Linked DNA regions of Homo sapiens: region 1 is linked to region 2. Evidence: fine-mapped expression QTL. A gene starts in region 2. The other region holds a variant in brackets. All regions are shown on one strand. Distances are between the middles of the regions.

Region 1 (2,913 bases), 31 kb before region 2:
GGACTGTTTGAGCCCCAGCCAGGAGTTGGGGGCTACAGTGAGCTATGATCACGCCACTGCACTCCAGCCAGGGCAACAGAGCGACACCTTATCTCAAAAAAATAAAGGAAATTAGAATATTTAGAGCAGTTACTATCTGTCTTTCTGTAGTTAAATCCTAGCAAGGAATGGGAAAAACAATAAATCCCAGAGAAAAATCAAGAAAAAAAAATCACTTTAATTGAGGAACACTTTCAGTTTGTGACAAAATTATGCTGTGAATCAGGTGTTGCAAATTATGGCCCACTGCCTGCTTTTGTGTAAGTTTTATTGGAACACAGCTACATTCAGTCCATGGCTGCTTTTAGAATACAACAGTAGACTTTAACATTTGGAACAGGGAACAGAAACCAGAGCCATACAGCTAATAAACTTGAAAATATTTACAAGTTGATGCTTTACAAAATCCATCTGCTGACCCCTGCTCTGTACCATTGTTCTCTTCTGATGGTCTGTTTACTAAAAAATAAAAACTTCACAAACATGTAAAAAATAGATTTGCCATTTAAAATGTGCTTTTCAAGTTTGACTTTTTAGGATGCAATTAATTCACTAAATACAGAACTTAACTAAGGACAAAAATTTAAAGATCAGCATTCTTTCCCTTCCCATCACGCTCAACTTAACATGAAGAACTGTAAACATCCTAAGCTTACAACAAACCTATCTAGTTAGACTTCAGTTAACCACTTACACATCCCCCTCCCCCATGAACTATTTGGAAAAAGCTGCAGGCGTAATATTGGATCCCTAAATACTTTATTCTCCTTATACCATTATCAGACCCAAGTATCATCTAATAGTCCATAATCAAACTGCCTAAGCAGTTTCTACACTGTCTTTTTAACTATTTCAAACTATCAAGGTTCGCATTTTCTTCCTTAGAACTTTTAGTCTTTTTCTTCCCCAAAATATTTGAGTCCATGCCAGTTGCCTTTAGTTGTACCCAAATAATGGTTTGTCTATTTCCTAAAAGTAGTACTCTTAAATTTAAATTTAGTGTTATTTTTGTTGTCATTGTTCCTTCTTCCTCATGTGGTTGTGCAGGCAGAGCTTGAGCATCCAGATTTCAAAATTAAAAAATAAAAGATAATCTAGTTTAATATATAGTAGTTGAATCACCTTAAGTCTAGACTGCTGTATGAGCACCCATTATCTTTCACTATATTCCATCATCCCCCAACATATCCACAGTAGATGAAGGGCAGTTTGCTCAAACATTGTTTTGATCCTGTCATGTCTGTTCAGAAATGCCTGTCTATTCAGAAACCCACGTCTAATAACAAAATCTTGGACTGGTTACTATCAAAACCCAACAACATACAGACTCCTCAGCTAGGCCCTAGGGATATTTTTCTACCTTGATTTCCAAATGTTCATTGAAAGAATGCTTAATTCTAATTTGGAAAAAAGTTTTTGGC[T/G]TCCCACTTCTGCTTTACACGTTCATCTTTCTTGAAATCAAATCCAATCCAATCTATATTCTAAGAACCTGCTCAAATCTTGGTTCTTCAAAGCTTTCCCTGGTATTTTGCATTTTTGCTTTGAATAGTTCCACGAAGGATAACTTCTTACTCCTTCCTTCATCTTTCTGTATCTTGCATATAGTAAATATTAATGACTTGTTTGCATTTTGTTATCCTAACTTGGCTATAAAGAAAATCAGATGTCTTCACCAGTCGTTCAAACTTCAGGTCTGCCTACAGATTCATAGATGGCTGTGGATTTTTATAATTTTGTCACAAAGTTAGTGGTAACTACAGGTTATCTCAGAATATCTTTTTTGGCGTATAAATTTTTTTCTTTTCCTTTTTTAGACAGTCTCTCTCTCTGTCGCCCAGGCTAGAGTGCAGTGGCGTGATCCCGGCTCACTACAACCTCTGCCTCCTGGGTTCAAGAGATTCTTAGGCCTCAGCCTCCCGAGTAGCTAGGGTTACAGGCGCGCACCACCTCCATGCCCAGCTCTTTTGTATTTTTAAGTAGAGACAGGGTTTCACCATGTTGGTCAGGCTGGTCTCGAACTTCTGACTTCAGGCAATCCGGCCGCCTCGGCCTCCCAAAGTGCTGGGATTACAGGCACAAGCCACTGCACCCAGCCTGGAGTATAAATTTCAAAACATTAAAATATGAATCAGGAAACTTCGATTCTGGTCTTTTTCAGACTTTAGGTTATTTTCCTTGGTTTTATATCTGAGTATAAAAGTGAAAATAGTTATTACACAAGTGGAAAATGTTCTTCTGATGAACAGTATACATTTTATTTTCTATAGATGAAAGAAATGACCTGCCGTGATATCGTTAAAGAAGTTGCAAAAATGTAAGTTGAAATTTTTCTTACCATCCACAAAAATATTTCATTTGACCTTTGCATATATATATTACATTAATCCTAAGAAGCTGTTTTCCTGTAAAATAACTTAGTGTATAATTTTTAGAAGGTAAATTTAACATTCTAAGAAGCCTCACGAAGGAAGAAAATGTTTTTAAGCAATATTTTTTAGTAGTAATGAATAGGATGGGAAAAATAGCTTGACAAAATAAACTCCTGTTACAGGTTAAGGACATATACCATTAGGGTCTTAATTTGTTAGCTCCCAACTTCTCAAATCTCTTAAGTCCTAATAATAGTAATCTTAAGATTGCCTCTATTGTAAGAATGCTTACAAACTTTATAGGTTACAACTAATTATTTCAATACATGATCCATGAAGCTGGCTCATTTATATAATCTGCTATTTATTTGGGAAAGATATGTTTCACTTTTTCAGGTTTATTATAAAAGTTCCTATAACAAGGTAAGAAGAGCAGTATTACAAAACATTTCAACAACCAGCTTAAGAAACCCTGAATAGTTTATTACAGGTATATAAAGTAGAA
Region 2 (2,913 bases):
CGATGACAGAGAGAGACTCTGTCTCCAAAAAAAAAAAAAAAAAAAAAAAAAAAGCCTCACTCCTAAACACTCCCATTTACAAGATCTTTTCTATATAAGAACTTTTTAAATAGGCGGGTGGGGGGGAGGAAATCACAAAAATACGCATAATGTTTTATAACAAAAACATGAGGTATATCAAAGTCCAGAAATGAGAACCACGTAAATGGGTAAACAAGTCCATAAGGATGTCCTAATTTTGGGATTTCATTCTAAAATATTACACTAGAAAGCTAATTATACAGACTCATTTGAATCTGACCAAACAAAACATCTTTTAACTACCCTTCCTCCCATTCTGGTATTTCTTTACTAATCCATAGAAAGTTTTTCCAGGTAGTCCCCCGCAATTCTAAGGATTTTTAGACTTTATGACTCACCTCAGTAATCACTGAGATGTTCTGTTTTCTTCAGCACAACTGCCAAAAAACCCAGTAATTGTTAAGTCACACAATCATTTTCTAGTTATGGGCGCCACCAATATAGCAGTAGGGTTTAAAACAGAGGTATTGAGGGTAACTATTAGGATCTATCCAGTGTGACTAGGTCACTCACTAGAAATGCCAACATGCATTTCACGTTTTTATGAATACTTTTGAGCAAAATTACTGTTACGAATAAAAAACTGATTCTGCTCGGCTGTTTTCTTACTGAGAAAATTTAGTCCACGTGGATTACTGACGATATGTCACATTTTAAAAATTACTCCATTCTATAAAACTAGTCAATTTTATACTCCAATTCCGCTATTTAAAAATGTGTGTTTCGTTTAACAGAATATAAGATGTTAACAGAAAAAGATCAACGTCTATCTTATCGGGGACGTCCTTTTGTCTAAGATGTTTTCAGTCCCTGCAAAACCACTGTTTGCTTTCAAAAAGTAGCATAAGCCTCGTGCAGAGTGACAGACCCTTGTCTAAGGTCACAGAAGAAGCGTCTGCGCTGGCAAGTAAATTCCTCAGCATCCAGAAAGCCAGCGCTTTCTCCAGTTTCCTCATAGCTTTATCCCGTGAGGAGCACGCGGAAACCTCTACCCATGCAGGATGTTTCTAAGAACCACTTCTTCCCTGTCTTAACTAAGAAGGCTCCCACAGCTGGTGCCAATCAGGTGGAGAACATGGCAAGTCCCCGAAATGCACTTCCAAAGACAGGAAAGATTGCAGTGGGACAGAACCCAGAAAATCTCTCACATTCTCGAAAACCCGAAAGAGAACCTCCAAGAAAGACGTTTGCCTCTCCTCCACCTCTTTATCTCGGCGGGAGAGGAAGCCTCGCCCCCATTCATCCCGCCCCTTCTCCCCACCCCGCCGCAGGGAGAAGTTTACCATGGCTGCCTGCGGCCCCTTCACTTCCGGTGCCGGTGCCGCTAGGGCTGCGCCATCCCCCCAGTCAATCGGACAACCATAGCCTCCAACTGACCTTTCTGACAGCTCTGAGACTCCTCCGGCCACGACTAGGTGCTGTCCTGGAGGAAACGGTGGAGGACGGCCGCACAAAAACCAATCTACCTGATGAAAACTCCGTTCCCTTCTCGCCAGAAACATAAAATGCGATGGAGCTACGGCCACCGCTGCCGAGACAAAATGGCGCCGACAAGCTGGTTTAGCGCAAGCGCCTTGGACAGACCCTGCCCCGCCCCCGTGCAAGCCCCTGGCTGCAATTCTGGGTTCCGTTTCCATGGGACACTCCGCCGCCAATCCTCGTGTCGAACTGCTCTTCCTGACCCCTCAATTCACCAATCAGTGCCCAGTCAAGCACATCCGGAGTCGTCTCTACCAATCATTTCTCAGGACTTGCTTACTCAATAACCAACTCTCCAATAAAGTTGGTTTTCGGAAAAAGCCAATCATAAGTGGAAGATGTCCTACCTGCTGTTTTTCTCACCAATCCATGAAGTTTCACAGCTACATCCAATGAGGACGGCAGGTAGCGAGGTCCTATCCGAAGCTCTTCGGCGTCATGAGCAGCCAATAGGAGTTCGTGTAGAAGCGAGTCTGCTCAACAGCTTGTTATTTGGTGGATTGTGGCAGTAAATCGGGGCGAGTGGGGAACCCGGCGCAGGAACTGCAGCCGCGGCTGGGAGTGGTGCTGCCCGGACGGGGGCCCACGGAGGTCAGAGGGGAGGAGGACTCTGGAGCTGACAGCGCGCACTTCACCCGCAGTTGGTAGGTGGGGAGAGGGGAATCCGGGGATACTGAATGGACGAAGTGGCAGTAGCAGCAGCTGCTGCTGCCCGAGGTCCCGGTGCAGTTGGAAGCTTTGGAGGTGGGGAGAGGGATGCTAGGCAAGTGGCACGGCGAGCGCAAGGGAAGGGGCCAGCCATTGACCAGCGGCAGCAACTGCAGGAACCGCCGCCGCAGTTGCAGCCGCCTCCTCGTCCGCTTCCTCGGGTTCCCGGGAAAATGGCTGTGGGGCTGGCCGCGCCGCTAAGTTTGCTTCCGCGCGGTGAAGAGCGGGCTGCTTGGGGGAGCCGTCCCCCAACTCCGCGGCGCGTCCACCTCTGCGGAGTCCGTGGCAGGACTCGAGGGGCTACGAGCTGATACCTCTCTGGGCTGTACAAAAAGTTGAGGCGGGCGCTGGGAGGAGGCAGCGGCTGCTGCGGTGCGGCTCCCCTCCCCTCCCACACCCTGTCCGGGCCACCTCCCCTCCTCCTCCCCTCCGCCCCCCGCCCCCTCCCCCACGCGGGTCCCCCGGGGCTCTGGCGGCTCCCGGCTGAAGGCCGCGGCCCCTGCCCCTTTGGGTGAAGGAGCGCTTCTCCTTTCTGACATGGTGCAGAGCGAAGGAAGGAGAGCAATGGCGCCGTGACACTCCGCTGCCGCCACCGCGGGCCCGGGGCGGGCCGAGGGGGCCGAGCGGCGGAGGCGGGGCGCGGGC

The links.
Region 1: its variant is fine-mapped to the expression of PSMA3-AS1 in whole blood (TOPMed, PIP above 0.99). The same link has a PIP of 0.9 or more in sigmoid colon, tibial nerve, unexposed skin and visceral fat.

Annotation. Positions count from the first base shown.
Region 1 is chr14:58,265,168-58,268,080 of GRCh38, forward strand. It overlaps PSMA3 (proteasome 20S subunit alpha 3), which reads left to right. Exons shown (of 11, transcript NM_002788.4): 8 at 2,307-2,353. PSMA3-AS1 (PSMA3 antisense RNA 1) reads right to left here. Exons shown (of 4, transcript NR_029435.1): 4 at 198-2,226. Among named protein-coding and RNA genes, the nearest start is that of LINC00216, 21 kb to the right of the region's middle. The variant T/G (reference allele first, on the strand shown) is at 1,461.
Region 2 is chr14:58,296,497-58,299,409 of GRCh38, forward strand. It overlaps PSMA3-AS1 (PSMA3 antisense RNA 1), which reads right to left and starts at 1,641. Exons shown (of 4, transcript NR_029435.1): 1 at 1,459-1,641. ARID4A (AT-rich interaction domain 4A) reads left to right here and starts at 2,059. Exons shown (of 24, transcript NM_002892.4): 1 at 2,059-2,204. RefSeq lists enhancers at 1,289-2,012, 1,309-1,728, 1,749-1,798, 1,909-1,998 and a silencer at 2,629-2,913.